Linked DNA regions of Homo sapiens: region 2 is linked to region 1. A link means that fine-mapping ties the variant in region 1 to the expression of a gene that starts in the linked region. Tissue or cell type: whole blood. Region 1 holds a variant in brackets; the other region holds the start of a gene. Each region is shown on its reference strand, or each on the opposite one. Region 1 overlaps CNTN5 (contactin 5). Region 2 holds the start of MRM3 (mitochondrial rRNA methyltransferase 3).

Evidence for each region. PIP is the estimated chance that this variant, and not a neighbour inherited with it, causes the effect.
Region 2: it holds the start of MRM3, and the variant in region 1 is the best candidate, but not a certain one, in a credible set for the expression of MRM3 in whole blood (TOPMed, PIP 0.55).

The regions. Positions count from the first base shown.
Region 1 is chr11:99,503,990-99,512,591 of GRCh38, forward strand. All of the region lies in intron 2 of CNTN5 (contactin 5), which reads left to right. Among named protein-coding and RNA genes, the nearest start is that of CNTN5, 490 kb to the left of the region's middle. The variant A/G (reference allele first, on the strand shown) is at 5,104.
Region 2 is chr17:777,653-786,254 of GRCh38, forward strand. It overlaps MRM3 (mitochondrial rRNA methyltransferase 3), which reads left to right and starts at 4,701. Exons shown (of 4, transcript NM_018146.4): 1 at 4,701-5,040; 2 at 5,431-5,675. The coding sequence starts at 4,727. GLOD4 (glyoxalase domain containing 4) reads right to left here and starts at 4,628. Exons shown (of 9, transcript NM_016080.4): 1 at 4,514-4,628; 2 at 1,043-1,092. The coding sequence starts at 4,603. RefSeq lists enhancers at 3,559-3,658, 4,659-5,008, 4,680-5,228.

The DNA of each region.
Region 1 (8,602 bases):
ATTTTTTGCTTTATATTTGTGTGTTAATTGTTCAATGAGATGCTTGGCTTACAAGATTTTTCTCACCCATATTTAGGTGAATGTATTTGAATTATAAATCTGTGGTGAACAGGGGCTGCACAGATTTAAGGTAATTTTAATATGATCAACAAACTGACTTTTTTTAGAAAAGGTAGAGTTTTGATGTAAACTAATATTTTGATAATAATCCTAGCACCCATGGGTTTAGACAAGTGTTTTTACTCTTATATGATCCAAAAGAAATTAAAGTGGCTGGGCGTGATGGCTCATGCCTGTAATCCCAGCACTTTGGGAGGCTGAGGTGGGCACATCATGAGGGCAGGAGATCGAGACCATCATGGCTAACACGGTGAAACCCCGTCTCTACTAAAGTACAAAAAATTAGCCGGGCATAGTGGCACAGGCCTTTAGCCCCAGCTACTTGGGAGGCTGAGGTAGGAGAATCGCTTGAACCCGGGAGGCGGAGGGTGCAGTGAGCCACTGCACGCCAGCCTGGGCAACAGAGCCAGACTCCGTCTCAAAAAAAAAAAAAAAAAAGAAAGAAAAGAAATTAAAATATAATTTTACATTTGAGACACACTAACAATTCAGTTGTCTGATTTAATATTTCTACTCTTGTTGTGGATGAATGTATATATTTTTAATAGAACTTTGGATTTTAAGCAGGAAGTTACTGTAACATCAAGTAAATTGTTAGAAAGTCGTTCTTCAAGCTCCAAATGAAAGATTCTTCACTCTTTGAAACCTTCTTTTGCTGACTCCATAGACTTAACCACTTGTGATTAGAGTTCCCTTGACCTTGAAATTGCATTACAGATAGTTGTCTTTGGTGCTACTTTCCTTAACAGACCACAACTTCTTGAGTGCAGAAACCATAGTTTATTGCTCTCCTAATTCTAAGTGAAAAAGGAAAGGAGAAGAGAATGTAAAAAGCAGGGGAAAGAGGCAAGCAGAAATAAAATAGTCTTTGAATATTTTGCAGCCACTTAATAAATTCTTAAGTCAGATCCTTTTTGTCCCACTTCTGACTTCTGGTTGACTTTATGTCTACTGGGATGGCCTCTTCTCAAGACTCAATTGTGTTCCAGTATGTTTTCTTTCTTCTCTCTCAGCATACCTCCCATTTCGCCCAAGTTATACAGTAAACTTGCTGTTTGAAAGAAAGCGCTGGACTTGTTTAATTTATATTAAAGAATGGGTGACCATTTATTGCTTTTATATGGTATCCCAATTTGATGTTAACATTTTAAAAAAAGACATGCTGACACAAAGTAGTAAATCTCTAATGGTAGAAATTATCTGTACAAATTTGGGATATAAGAGCATTGATTATCAGTACTCTTTGTCCTGCTTTCCTCACTGTCCTGCTTTGCTGAATAGTATTTGCAGAAGAGAGAAAGAGTTAGTATGCAGGATAATTTACAGAAACAAGTATGATGTGGGAAGAATAGAGTTTTTTGAGAGCTTAATAAATTTTTTTCAACATAACTTTTGAATGATTCACTCTGGTCATTTAGACAGGAGGCCCAAATAGCAATGTTAGAAAGCTGCCAGAGAATTTGTTACACAAGATAAATCCAGCCTTTGGGAAATCTTGTGGTATTCCTAATTACCTTCTTGTTTCTTTATACACGTAAGGCTTGGATGCTGGAAGATAACACAATTATATCTCCTCCCCCAATCCCTATGTAACAGATTTTCCACATTGAATTTCATTTTTGTTTTTTAAATAATATCAAACCTTTGCATTTCTCCAGGTTAGTAAAAATGCAGGCCTCATTGTGTTGCTAAAGGATCTTCCTCTTTTCCCCACTTAGAATTTTCTGAACCTAATCAGCAAGGAGCATTTTGCCAGGCTCCTGGTCATTGGTCCATAAATGAATGACACTCTTCAGGCCAAGGGCTAGCTAATTGCCAATTCCGAACTCTGTGTGTTAACTAGTGTGTGTTCTTTTCACTTTTCAAAGTCATAACGGATCAGGTACAGTGGCTTTTGCTTCCACATTTGAGCTGCCTGAATAAACAGGAGGTAATCCCTCACCTTAGGCTGCTGCATAATGCATTCCAGCTTGTTGCTCTGAGTATTTTTTGACAGCTTTAACATTTGTTACTGGTAGTTGATCTTGGACTTTTTGATCCATGAATCTGAATGGTACGGCTTGTCCTCATGCTCATCATTTCTTGGTCAGCAAATTAGTCTGGGGCCCTTGCTCAGGATCGTACTAAAAATGAAAATCCCCATGCAAAATAAGTATTTCCATAATTTTGAGTATCTTTGTTGAAAAAGAAAAAAATGTTCTCTCTTTTTAATGGCATGAGACAGTTATTCTTCCATCATGTGAGCATCTTGCTCTCTGTTTACAATGTGTATGTTATGCAGATTCTTATACAAATATCTTTTCTATTTTTTTAAACGAAGGCAGGTTCACACCTCTGTCTTGTGTCCACCTTTCCAGGTACCAGTGCCTCTCATTTATTCTTAGTTTTCAGTATTGCGATTTGTTTTAGGTAGACGATTTGCGCCTTGAAAAATAGTCATTGCAAACAATGAGTAAATACTTAAAAAAAATTATAGTGTTTGTATAGTAAAAGTGTGTGTTTTTTCTCTTCTAAATTTACTGTAATGTCACATTTTACTTGTAAATAAGTAGGAATTTCAATGTAGTAACGTAAATAAGTAAAATTAAATAACCAGTAGTTCTAAATACTGTTTTAATTGTTATTGTCTGTTTACTTCATAGTAGTAATTGTAGGAATATATTTCAAGAAAGTAAATGTAAAGTCTAACAAAGTCACTACATTATTTGTTATAGTAAAAAATATCAATAACCAAAATGCCCAAAATGAAGTAATTGATCAAATTTAATGAGAACAACCTGAGGGAATATTATATGAGTGGAGACAATTGTATTTATTTAAAAAAATATAAAAAGTTGAAAAATGCTATTTTTATGAAAAAGCAGAATTTGACATCTAACATATGAAATGATCTAAATCAATGTTTTTCAGATGTTTTAGTTTCCATTTTTAAAAATAAAAAGTGTATTGTACCTATGACCCTCATATATGCATACATAATACACAAATAAAACAAGTTTTTCTCACACCTGTAATCCCAGTACTTTGGGAGGCCGAGGCAGGCAGATCATGAGGTCAAGAGCTCGAGACCATCCTGGCCAACATGGTGAAACTCTCTTCTACACTAAAAATACAAAAATTAGCTAGGCATGGTGGTGCGCACCTGTAGTCCCAGCTACTCGGGAGGCTGAGGCAGGAGAATCGCTTGAACCCGGGAGGCAGAAGTTGCAGTGAGCCGAGATGGTGCCACTGCACTCCAGCCTGGCAACAAAAGGAGACTCTGTCTCAAAAAAAAAAAAAAAAAAAAGAAAGGTTTTTCAAAACAATAGTCATCCCATTAAATATAATGTATATTGACATTTTCTTTTTTCTCTCTGTTTTAATTTAATTTTAAAAGAATTTGAATTGTGACCTGTTAAAGTGATTTATTGACCAAAAAATGGGTTGTGATGTGTAGCTAACAAGACATTGACCTAAAATACATAAACGATGTACTTTGAAAATATTCTAGAAAGAAATGCAGTATAATATTAATATTTTATACATAACATTTAGATATGGAATATTTACATTTTTCCCTCATTCTGCTCCAAAGTTTTAAAAATATTGGCAGTAAACATTTTAACCTCACAAGTGTGACTCAACTTTTCACGTGCCATATTTTTTCATCAAGTGTAAATATGTTTTACTTTTCCAAGTGCTTTCTTCCAGCTTCTTTTCCGTTTTTGGTAGGGTAGAGCCCAGGTTTTAAAACACAGAGTATTTTTCTGGACCTAGTAAGTTCAAGATAAATAACTATTACATGAGTGAGTGAGTTAAGTGCTTGAATGGCTTTATAAAACTTAACTCAAATGTGTTTTTATGAAGTAAATGTTAGTTTTTATTATTATTTTATTCACTTCATTACAGAGCAACATCAGCTCTACTAAAATGGAAGTTAATATAGTCAAATGACATTTTCATATTCAAAATATACTCTTGTCCAAAACATGTCTTCAGTGTTAGGACAGAGTTATGTTTGGTGATAATGCTGTATAAAATGTCATCCTGCTGAAGAAAGAACGTAGGCTTGGGAGCCAAAACAGTTTGTAGTGATCTCGCTGAGCCACTCCGTTGTAAAATGAAAATAATAATATTTGCCTCATAAGCTTTCTGAGTAATTAATTTGTATAAAATACCTAGGTTCATGACTGGCACATATGTTAAGCGCCTGCCTTTCCTTTTCCCCAGCTACTGGGTAATATTTTAAAATATTTTATAATTTTAAAGAAAATTGTTGTCATTTACAGTCAGCCCTTCGTATGTGATGTGGAACCCGTGGACACAGAGGGCCGGCTTTTGGATCCAGGGTTGTTGACTGAGTACACCGATGCAGAGCCACACATACTGAGTGCTGGCTGTACTACCATTTCATACAAGCGACTTGAGCATCCACAGCTTTTTGTATCCACAGGGTTTGCGGAGCCCTTCCTCAATGGATAATGAGAGCAAACTGCAATTAGCTGTATATAAAATTACAATCTTTAAAAACGTAGGCTTTTATATCAACTGAAGTGACTCAGGTTCAGCAACGCATAATATAATTTTTCTTTTCTTTCTTTTTTTTTTGACACGGAATTTTGTTCTTGTCACCCAGGCTGGAGTGCGGTGTGGCGCGATCTCGGCTCACTGTAACTTCCTCCTCCTGAGTTCAAGCGATTCTCCTGCCTCAGCCTCCCAAGTAGCTGGGATTACAGGCATGCGCCACAATGCCCGGCTAATTTTTTATTTTTAGTAGAGACGGGGTTTCACCAGATTGGCCAGGCTGGTTTCAAACTCCTGACCTCAAGTGATCAGCCCGCCGCAGCCTCCCAAAGTGCTGGGATTACAGGCGTGAGCCACCATGCCCGGCCGCCAAGATAAATTTTATAAATAAATACATAAAGTGTAAATATGAAGTGGGAAAAAAATACCATCTAATTTTAAAAAGATACAACACTTACACAGATATGATATGGGGGGAAT[A/G]TATCTTAGAACCAAAAGTACTAAGTTGAATATAAATCATCATGTTGTACTATACCTATGAAAGGGAATTCTCATATATATTTCAGAAGATTTGGCCAACAAGAATAGAAAATGTCTTTGAGCTCATCCCTGTGTTCTTTAGGATCTTCATTTAAAAAGCAGAGTTGTCATTCTTGTTTTTTGTTTGTTTTCAGGGTGTACTAAAAAACTAAAGTCAGTTCACCATCGTACATGAAAAATTCTCAAAAAATTTGTAAACAAACATTAAAGATTTAATTTGATTTAATTTAATAGAGGAAATTAAGATTAATTTAATACAAATCTCTGTGCACATTCAAAATAGAAATGGTGAATTCTTCTTCATGTTCACTGAGAAGAGATAAGGATATTGGTTAAACTGGCAAAGAGAAAGAGCAAAAAGGGAAGGTGCTGTTGAAATTTTAAAGCAGTCTTTTAAAATATAACTGACCAAAATGATTTTTAGACTCTGATACAACAAAATAAGTGATTGAATTTTTGAAGTCTCATAACTTAATAAAATAGTATGATGTCCCAGAGGTTTTGATTTACATCTGAATAGAACCTTTTAATGAAAACAAAATATACACAAAAATGAATAAATAAAAATAAAAAATATTTTACTGAGAAAAAAAGAGATTATTGATCATTTAATATAGGGGTAATTTCCTTAATACATCTATTTATTAATGTTATGAATTAATTTTCTCAACTTAGAAAAAGTATTCCCTACATAGTATGAAAAATTCAAACAATGTGATAATAAAAGGTAATGCTGCACAGGAGGTAAACACACAAACTACTGGGCTTGAATTCAAGTTCTGACTCCATCTATTAATATTTCTGTAAGTCTATATACAAATGTCGCTTAATCTCTCTTTGCCTCAATTTTAAAAAAAATGTAAATGAAAATTAAAATAATTCTTGTTTCTATTATGGGGCTTAAATTGCGTAATACTGGCAGATTACTTAAAACAGTGCTTGGCACAGAATAACTATCCAATATATTTTAGCCTTTATAATTATTGTATAATAATATAGTCAAAAGACACAAGCAGAGAGTGCTTACAGAAAGAACAAAATGGGGCAACAAGTATATAAATCAGAGCCAACCATTCTTACAACCAAGTAAATGAAACAATGAGACCTTTGTTAACATATCGGATTGAAAGATTTATCTGTTGTTATAGGTGTGGGAAAAAAAGAGACTCTCAAACACTGTTGGTGAGAGTATAAACTGGCATAACCTTTCTGAGGGCAATTTAGAAACTATCAAAGTGAAACTGCACGCATCTTTTGACCTAGAAATCTGACTTCTAATATTACTGATATTTAAACATGTCTACAATCTTGTTAACAGAAAACTAATGGATGCAACATAGCAGTTCTAGTATGAGTTGTATGTGCTTCAGAAAAGTACATATACACATTCATACAAAATATGAGTATGCATACAGTCATGTACCCCATAACAATGTTTTGGTCAATAATGGACTGCATATATGAGGGTGCTTCAATAGTGGAGCTGAAAAATTCCTATCATTTAGTGACATTGTGTCCTTTGTAATGTACTGCAATGCATTATTCAACGTTTATGGTGATGCTGCTGTAAACAAAACTATTGGACTGCCAGTTACATAATGATAATATACAACTATGTTACTGGTTTACATATGTACTATACTATACTTTTCATCATTACTTTAGAATGTTCTCCTTTCAGATATTTTTTATAAAGTTGAGTGTAAAACAGCCTTAGGCAAGTTCTTCAGGAAGTATTCCAGAGGAAGTCATTATTATAATCATAGGAGATGACAGCTTCGTGCATCTTATTACCACTAAAGACCTTTCAGTGGAACAAGATGTAAAGGGGCAAGACAGTGATACTGATGATCCTGACCCTTTGCAGGCCTCGGCTGATGTGTTTGTTTATGTTTTAGTTTTTAATTTAAAAAGCGTAAACATTAAAAAAAATTAAATAGAAAAAATCTTATAGAAAAGAACATAAAGAAAAATATTTTTGTAGGGTGTCAATTTTGGATCTTTCCTGCTTTCTCTTGTGAGCATTTAGTGCTATAAATTTCCCTCTACACACTGCTTTGAATGTGTCCCAGAGATTCTGGTATGTGGTGTCTTTGTTCTCGTTGGTTTCAAAGAACATCTTTATTTCTGCCTTCATTTCGTTACGTACCCAGTAGTCATTCAGGAGCAGGTTGTTCAGTTTCCATGTAGTTGAGAGGTTTTGAGTGAGTTTCTTAATCCTGAGTTCTAGTTTGATTGCACTGTGGTCTGAGAGACAGTTTGTTATAATTTCTGTTCTTTTACATTTGCTGAGGAGAGCTTTACTTCCAACTATGTGGTCAATTTTGGAATAGGTGTGGTGTGGTGCTGAAAAGAATGTATATTCTGTTGATTTGGGGTGGAGAGTTCTGTAGATGTCTATTAGGTCTGCTTGGTGCAGAGCTGAATTCAATTCCTGGGTATCCTTGTTAACTTTCTGTCTCGTTGATCTGTCTAATGTTGACAGTGGGGTGTTAAAGTCTCCCATTATTATTGTGTGGGAATCTAAGTCTCTTTGTAGGTCACTCAGGACTTGCTTTATGAATCTGGGTACTCCTGTATTGGGTGCATATATATTTAGCATGGCACATGTATACATATGTAACTAACCTGCACATTGTGCACATGTACCCTAAAACTTAAAGTATAATAATAAAATTTAAATAAATAAATAAATAAATAATTTTGAATATGTAGTTGCATAAAAAAAGAAAAATATTTTTGTATAGCTCTACAATGCATTTGTGTTTTAAGCTCAATGTTATGAGTCAAAAAAGTTTACAAAATTAAGTTTATAAAGTAAATTAATTACAGTAAGCTAAGGCTAATTTATTGAAGATACAAAAAGATTTTAAATAAATTTAGTGTAGCCTAAATGCACAGTGTTTATAAAGTCTACAGTAGTGTACAGTAATGTCCTAGGGCTTCACATTCACTCCCATTCACTCCTGAACTCACCTAGAGCAAAATACCAACCCTGCCGCCTCCATTCAAAGTAAGAGCCCTAGACAGGTATAGCATTTTTTCTTTCATACCACATTTTGCTATACCTTTAATACATTTAGATACATGCGTAAGGTTACTAACCATTGTCTTCCAATTGCCTATAGTGTGCAGCACGGTAACATGCTGTGCAGGTCTGTAGCCTAGGAGCAGCAGGCTATGTCCCATAAAGCCTAGGATTGTAGTAATCTATACCACCCAGGTTCGTTAAAGTATATTTATGATGTTTTCACAAGAAATCGCCTAATGGGGCATTTCTCAAAATATATCCCTGCCATTAAGTGAAGAGTGACTGTATAGGCATACCTTGCTTTATTGCTCTTTGGTTTATTGCAGTTTGCAGATATTGTCTTATTTATAACGTGAAGGCTCGTGGAAACCCTGTGTCCAGCAAGTCTGTTAGTGCCATTTTTTCAAC
Region 2 (8,602 bases), not on the chromosome of region 1:
GATACTGGAAAGCCGCTGCTTCATCTAGAGCATGTACTTATTTGCATTTGTGGCATAATATGAAACATATCTGGTCATTGTCCCTGGTTCCTGTCTCAGAGCTCCCAAAACCTCTGGAATTTCCTGATAGGAATATCTTTTGTTATATTCATAATGAGCCCCTTTCAGTCACACCTGAGTTTATGCTAATGAAGTGACTTAGAGTGGGGCCTCTACATAGACTCAGGATGGGGCTGGTCACCAGAAAGACAAATGATTAGAGGACTGAACTTTCAGTCCCATCCACCAACCTCTGGGAAGGAAAGGGATGGAGACTGGGCTCTATTAGGCTTGAACAATGAGACTCATGAGCTTCTGGGATGCTGAACGTAGGGAGGTGCTGGATTGGAGCCTGCCCAGAAGAGCATGGAAGCTCTGCCACCCACTCCCCATGCCCTGCCCTGTGTATCTCCTCTGTCCAGCCATTTCTGACTCGTACTCTTTATGATAAACCAGTAAATGTAAGTAAGTGTTTCCAGCGTTTCCCTTAGTTCCATGAGCCACTGTAGCAGACTATCAAACCCAAGGAAGCAGGAGCGGGAGCCCTGACTTGTAGTTGGTCATCGGAAATCCTGAAGATCCAGACTGTGACCGGCGCCTGACGTGGCGGAAAATCTTCTGGGACTGAGCCCTTAACTTGCAGGATCTGACATTAACTCCAGGTAGAGTCAGAATCAATTAAATAACAGGACAGCCGGCTGGTGTTAGAGAGCTGGAGAATCCCTTTGTGTCCCACAGGTGTTGTATGAGAGTGCAGAGAAATGTGTTCCCGACGCTCCTGAAGTTGCCTCCCTAATTTACTGCCTTCTTAATTAATTCCACTGCTTTATACTCATGAGAGTGCAGAGAAACAGTATGTGTTCCCGACGCTCCTGAAGTTGCCTCCCTAATTTACTGCCTCCTTAATTAATTCCACTGCTTTATACTCACTTTGAGAAACTGTCTTCTGTTATCCGGGTGTAGTCAGAGCCTAAAGGAGATTTTAAGAAACAAGGTATCATACCCATTACAGGCAGCTTTGCAGCCTTCTTCAAATTCCTCATGCCGCAGAACCTGGTGTGAGATTTAGAATAAATTGTGAAGTGTTGCTAGTACTGCTCACAGCGTCTTTAGCACAGACTAAAATGTCAAAACACAAACATTATCATTTATAAGCTTTACTTGTAAAAGAACAAAAGCAAATGAGCTTTACACTTCTCCCAGGATAGAAGCAGTGGAAGGACGAACAGCTTGACACCAAGGGTCAGGCTACCAAATCAGTTGTGAAATCTATTTAGATTGGTAAGCAGTGCTATGCAGTGGGAAAAAGTGTGGCCTTCAGCATTAAAGAAGTCTGATTTGGGCCGGGCACAGTGACTCACGCCTATAATACCAGCACTTTGGGAGATCAAGGTGGGTGGACTGCCTGAGGTCAGGAGTTCAAGATCAACCTGGCAAACATAGTGAAACCCCGTCTCAACTAAAAATACAAAAATTAGCCAGGCGTGGTGGCGTGTGCTTGTGATCCCAGCTACTCAGGAGGTTGAGGCAGGAGAATCACTTGGACCATGAGATGGAGGTTGCAGTGAGCCGAGATCGTGCCCCTGCACTACAGCCTGGGTGACAAGAGCAAAATTCCATCTCAAATTAAAAAAAAAAAAAAAAAAAAAAAAAAAAAGATGGGCATCGTGGCTCACGCCTGTAATCCCAGCACTTTGGGAGGCTGAGGTGGGCAGATCACCTGAGGTCGGGAGTTCGAGACCAGCCTAGCCAACACAGTGAAACCCCATCTCTACTAAAAATATAAAAAATACAAAATTAGCCAGGCATGGTGGTGGGCGCTTGTAATCCCAGCTACTCAGGAGGCTGAGGTAGGAGAATTGCTTGAACACGGGAGGCAGAGGTTGCAATGAGCTGAGATTGCACCATTACACTCCAGCCTGGGTGACAAGAGCAAAACTCAAACTCAAAAAAAAAAAAAAGTCTGATTTGGAATTCTGTCATTTAGTAGTTGTGTAACTCTGAGCAAATTAGAATCTGAGTCTCAGTCTCCTAACATGTGATGGGAATGGATGTTATGAAAGCATCTCACAGAACCCTGCACACAGCGGGCTCTCAACGTGTTAGCTTTAGCCCTCCTTTTTGATTCCCACGGCTCCTGCCAGTTGAAGTTCCCAACGCTTCGCTCAGACTATTAAAAATCATCCTTATTGGCCGGGCGCGGTGGCTCACGCCTGTAATCCCAGCACTTTGGGAGGCCGAGGTGGGTGGATCATGAGGTCAGGAGATCGAGACCATCCTGGCTAACACAGTAAAACCCCATCTCTACTAAAAATACAAAAAATAAGCAGGGCGTGGTGGCGGGCGCCTGTAGTACCAGCTACTCGGGAGGCTGAGGCAGGAGAATGGTGTGAACCCAGGAGGCGGAGCTTGCAGTGAGCCGAGATTGCGCCACTGCACTCCAGCCTGGGCGAAAGAGCGAGACTCCGTCTCAACATAAAAAAAATAAAAAATAAAAAATAAAAAAATCCTTATTGATATCCTTCCTTAATAACACCAAAAAAGCACATGCCTAAAGCACAAAGCACTGATCCCATCACCACCCTGTTTAAGAACATAAGTGAGCTCCCATCTTACTGCAGCATAAAATCCAAATTCTTTAGCATAGCATTCAAGATACTATTAGAAGCAATGCCGACCTGTCCATCCTGATATCCCATCTCCTTAACTTCAACTAAGCAACCTCAACTAAAGGCACATAAAACCAGCGGCTTCGCAAACATGTGCCATCTCCGCACTGGCTCTTCAGTTTTACTATGTAGCTCCTCCTCTCATCTACCTGTGGATATCCTATCTTTAGACGTCAACTCGAATCCTGGCTAACACGGTGAAACCCCGTCTCTACTAAAAATATTTTTAAAAATTAGCCGGGTGTTGTGGTACGCGCCTGTGGTCCCAGCTACTCGGGAGGCTGAGGCAGGAGAATGGTGTGAACCCGGGAGGCTGAGCTTACAGTGAGCCGAGATCGCGCCACTGCACTCCAGCCTGGCGACAGAGCAAGACTCCACCTCAAAAAAAAAAAAAAAAAAAAAAGTCAACTCGAATACAAGGTCTACATGAATTATTTCCTCATCACCCAGGTTGGAAAACCGCTCCTTCTTTTGTATTTTTATAATAGTGGCTAACACTTATATAATCTACTATTACCGATATGTTAAATACTATACATATAATAAGGTGTTGAATCTTTTTTTTTTTTTTTTTTTTGAGACGGAGTTTTGCTTTCGTCATCCAGGCTGGAACACAATGGTGCGATCTCGGCTCACTGCAACCTCCGCCTCCCAGATACAGGCGATTCTCTTGCCTCAGCCTCCCGAGTAGCTGGGATTACAGGCGTGTGCCACCATGCCCGGCTAATTTTTGTATTTTTAGTAGAGACAGGGTTTCACCATGTTGGCCAGGCTGGTGTCCAACTCCTGACCTCCAGTGATCCACCCGCCTTGGCCTCCCAAAGTGCTGAGATTACAGGCGTGGGCCACCGCGCCGGCACGTGTTTAATCTTTGCAACAACCTTTTGATCGACGAGGAAATACTAACAAGGGACAGCTCTGTGGTTTCTGCTATCGAAAGTTTGGTGGTTTTTCACTATCAAATTCTGACTTCCATTACCATCATCTACGTACAAATCCAGTTCCAACTCCCACCCCAACCCAGGCCATGAGCTCTAATGGAGGATATATATCAGGGTCATTTGCACCTTTGTTGCCAAAACTCAACGTAGTACCCTGAAAATAGCAGATATTTTAAAAATGACCTGACGAATTCAGATCCCCGTCTATTGCACCGTCTATACACTAAACCGCGCTCTTGCACCTTTCAAGTCTTCCTTAGTGGTGTGTTCCCTACCTCCCTGGCTTATCAAAGGAGGTCCCCAAAACCCAGTTCCCCAACCAACTGAATCCTGCAAATAACAGCTCCTCAGGACCCGAGACAGACCGCTTCTGGGTGCTGTTGAAAAGCAGATGGGTTGAGAGTTGGAGCATATATTCAGAGACTGAGTATCCGAAACGGACTATTCAGACCAGCCTTGCTAGAAGCAGAACTCTGAATACGCTGATTTTATCTACATCAAAGGCTCCAAACCGGAAAACACAAATATTAACTAGAAAGCATTATATAACATTTTATTTACCGTCTTTTCCGGTAGACGGTAAGCTCCACAAGGGCGGGGCTCAATAAACGTTTACGAGTGGCTTAAATGAAAGGACGTGCGTGGGCACACCGCGGGGACTAATCGTGTTAGGCCCTTCTCCAAGGCCTATGATCCCCAACGGCAACTCGCCACGCTCCTGAAGCTGAACACCGCGCAGGGCCTAAGGTCGGACACCCTCCGGCTTAGGTTCACGACACACCCATTTTCCCCTCCCTCCGCCAGGGCCGGCTCGGGCGCCGGTTCCAGCCTCGCGCGCCAGCCCCTGTCGGCCCCGGCCTGCACCTTCATCCCCAGGACGTCCCGATAGAAACGCGCCGTCTGGAAGCGGTTTCCCACTTTGAATACGAAGTGCAGAGCTCTGCGAGCAGCCATGATTCCCGCCGCACGCAGCCGTCACGCGCACCGTACAGCCCAGTCCACGAAGGGCGCCACGGGCCGTGACGTCACTAGCCGCCGACGGCGCGCTTTCGTGACGCAGCCCGGGTCTCAGGGAACATGGCGGCGCTGGTGAGACCCGCGAGGTTTGTCGTGCGACCGTTGCTGCAGGTGGTCCAGGCTTGGGACCTTGACGCGAGGCGCTGGGTCCGGGCGCTGCGGCGGAGCCCAGTGAAAGTGGTGTTTCCTTCCGGAGAGGTGGTGGAACAGAAGCGCGCTCCTGGGAAGCAGCCCCGCAAGGCACCATCTGAGGCCAGTGCCCAGGAGCAACGAGAGAAACAACCGCTCGAGGAGTCCGCATCCCGCGCTCCCAGCACCTGGGAAGAGTCTGGGCTTCGCTACGATAAAGCTTATCCCGGGGACAGGAGGCTGAGGTGATGTGGTTCTTGAGCCTGTCGAATGTTCTCGTTTCCCTTCCCGTCGCACAGCGGAACCTTAACCTCCTTCCGATGGAGGACTTCTTCCAGTACAGCCCGCTGGTTTTTGTATTATGCACAGAGGGCCGAATAAGCGTCTTTGGAATTAGCTTCTGTTTCTCCTTAGCTCTTTGTTGTTGTTTTTGTTTCACCATGTTAGCCAGGCTGATCTGGAACTCCTGACCTCAGGTGATCCGCCCGCCTCGGCCTCCCAATGTGCTGGGATTACAGGCGTGAGCCACCGCGCCCGGCCCTCTCCGTAGCTCTTTATTTCTGTTACAACTAAGCGTGTCTCAGTAACAAGGATGTTGATAGTTACCTGTTTTTTTTTTTTATTTCCATCTACAGCAGTGTAATGACAATAGTAAAGTCCAGGCCATTTCGGGAAAAACAAGGGAAGATCCTGCTGGAAGGTCGCAGGCTCATTTCAGACGCTCTCAAGGCTGGAGCTGTGCCAAAAATGTTCTTCTTTAGCCGTCTAGAATACCTAAAGGAGTTGCCAGTCGATAAGCTGAAAGGTGTCAGCCTCATTAAGGTGAAATTTGAGGATATCAAGGATTGGTCCGACCTCGTAACGCCACAAGGAATAATGGGTTAGTGATTACCCAGTGTATCTTTTTTTTTTTTTGTCTTGTTCTGTCACCCAGGCTGGAGTGCAATGGCGCGATCTCGGCCCACTGCAACCTCCGCCTCTCGGGTTCAAGGGATTCTCTTGCCTCAGCCTCCGCAGTAGCTGGGATTACAGGCGTCTGCCACCATGCCCGGGTGATTTTTGTATTTTTAGTAGAGGTGGGGTTTCACCATGTTGGCCAGGCTGACGTCGAACTTGTGACCTCAGGTGATCCTCCTGCCTCGGCCTCCCAAAGTGCTGGGATTACAGGCGTGAGCCACCATGCCTGGCCTTACACAGTGTATCTTAAGGTGTGGAGACCTAGGATTAATTTCTCATACTTGTCTTAGGACAGCAGCATTGAAATGAAATTCAAAATGTTACAATTAGAAAAATATAATTCTCAAACCTGTGTATCTTAGAGTATTTTCAATGGAAATTGAAACCCGTTTTTCACTATCATTTGTGTTGTGGCTCTTTATGGTCTCTAGGAAGAACCACTATTCCTCAAACCTTCTATTTTTTAGATTACTTCTTCAACTTTCTATGTCAGATTAAAAATTAAGAAAGCGTTTACTGAAAGATTGAGCCCTTCATTTTTGCAAAACCTCTGCCAATGTGGTGATAACTGTCAATAAACTGCTTATTCCAGAAGCAGATCTAAGAAGCGAGGTACAAGCCACAATTTACTGCCCCGTTTAGCCCAATAAACAGAGAACCTTGTCTTCTAGTCTGTTCCTTCATTTGGCTGAATCTGACTTAACCTTATGTAACTCCGATGTTGATTAGCAGTTACAAAGTCTTTGGTCTAAATATGAGAAGATAAGTTTTTCATACGTTTTTGACATGGGAGTTTTAAGATATGAAAACTGAATCCTTGAACTGCTGAGAGAGGAGATTCTGGGGAACCATCTCTTGTCTCTGTAACCCAGTGAGTCACAGGGATCTGTGCCTCTGCACTCAGAGCTCTTAGATCCTAGGATGGGGACTTGGATTACTAAAGTACCTAGAATTACTCATGCTAAGTAACCATATTCTCACTAGCTACAGCCCTCTAATCCACACGCCATGCTTCAGTGAAAGTGTTATTCATTTTTACCGTGCTTGTCACTTGGGGCAGGTGTGCTCACAGTGGCCAGCCCATCTTGAACTTGTGCTTGTCACTTGGGGCAGGTGTGCTCACAGTGGCCAGCCCATCTTGAACTTGTGCTTGTCACTTGGGGCAGGTGTGCTTACAGTGGCCAACCCATCTTGAACTTCATCATCATACCTGCTTTCATCATTTCCTGGCTTATCCTTATGTTACTATATTTTAGATTTGAGGGCAGGGAATAAGGGAGAAATGGATAGGAACTGGCAGCACCTGTCAGGCTTTAGACAGACACTCCCCAGAATCCAGCGACATAAGTAGGGCCTCCGTATAGTGGGTTCTCATCACCACAGACATCCAAGTAGAAGTAAAGGACTTCTAAGGTCCTCAGCCCTACTGAATGGCTTTTGGCCATCTGTGACTCCGAAGTGGAGGCTCTCTCACAGCACACAGACGCCTAATACCCTTCCATTGCCTTCAGTGGTGGATAGGCTTTTTACCTGCACCATCTTTTAGAAAGAATCCTAAATCTTTGATTGTATCATGTTTCAGTACAAGTACTATTTCATTCATCTCCTGACTTCAGTCAGTAGCCCATTTATTGTAGCAATCATATACGACAAAATACTAGTAAGATTCAAAAAAACTGTACAGTCCCTTGGGAGCAGACTACAAAGGGATTGAATATTTGATAATTATACATAAAGAGTTTAGGGTAGTGCTTGGCTTAAAAAAAAAAGCTTACTAAAAGGTTATCATTATCACCTCTACCAGTAAACATGGTGATTCAAAAAGAAACTTGTGGATATGTGATACACCCATGTGAATAACTTCATCTATACCACAGCAATTTCATGTACTCAAAGCCATTTTTAATATTGTTATTAGCCTTTTTCCAATTTTTCTCTTTTCCCATAAATTCTTTCCATAAAACTTTAGAGATTAATAATGTAGAGATTATATAATGTAGATTATTATATAATGTATATATAATTTTATCATGTAGAGATCATTAAATAAGGAGAGAATTTTCCACTAAGAAGGCCACTTAGGGTTTTCATTTTCCCAGATAGTCCCAGACCCCATTTTACTCCTTTGTATTAGACTGAGGACAGAGCGGTCGCCAGTAAGTGGCTGTACCCATTCTAAAGCTCCCAGGCTTCTGGACCTCCAGCGTGAGGCCTTGGAAGTGACTCAAGCGTTCACTGCACCTACAGCCCCTTCGTTTTGCAGAGTATGTCCCTAAGACAGTGCTTCTGAGCCAGCGTATTTGAAAAAGGGGTTGTTACTTTGATGCATTCAAGTTTTGAAATTCATATTCTTTTTCCTAGGAATGTAGTTTGAATTTTAAAATGAGTGATAAAGGAAAGATAAATCAGTATAGCAGGCTAATAATTGTTTTTTAAATATTTAAGCCTATAAACTATTTTTTAAAAGCCTACCTGGTAGGAAGATGGGCACAGGTTGTAGAAACAAGACAGTTAAAGGAGCACAGGAATTCACTGAAGAAGATCGCAGTCAGTCAGTAAGGTGTTTAGCTTCTCTAGTAATCAGAGAAAAGGCAAGTTAAAATAATGGCATGCTGTTTTTTCTATCACATTGGGACAAATGGAAACAAATGATAGACCCGCTTTTAAGAAGGGTTTGAGCTGGAAAACAGGTTTTGTTTTGTTTTGTTTTTTGTTTTTGAGATAGTGTCTCTGTTGCCCAGGCCGGAATGCAGTGGCGCGATCTTGCCTCACTGCAACCTCCACCTCCTGGGTTCAAGCAATTCTCTTGCCTCAGCCTCCTGAGTAGCTGGGATTACAGGCATGCGCCAC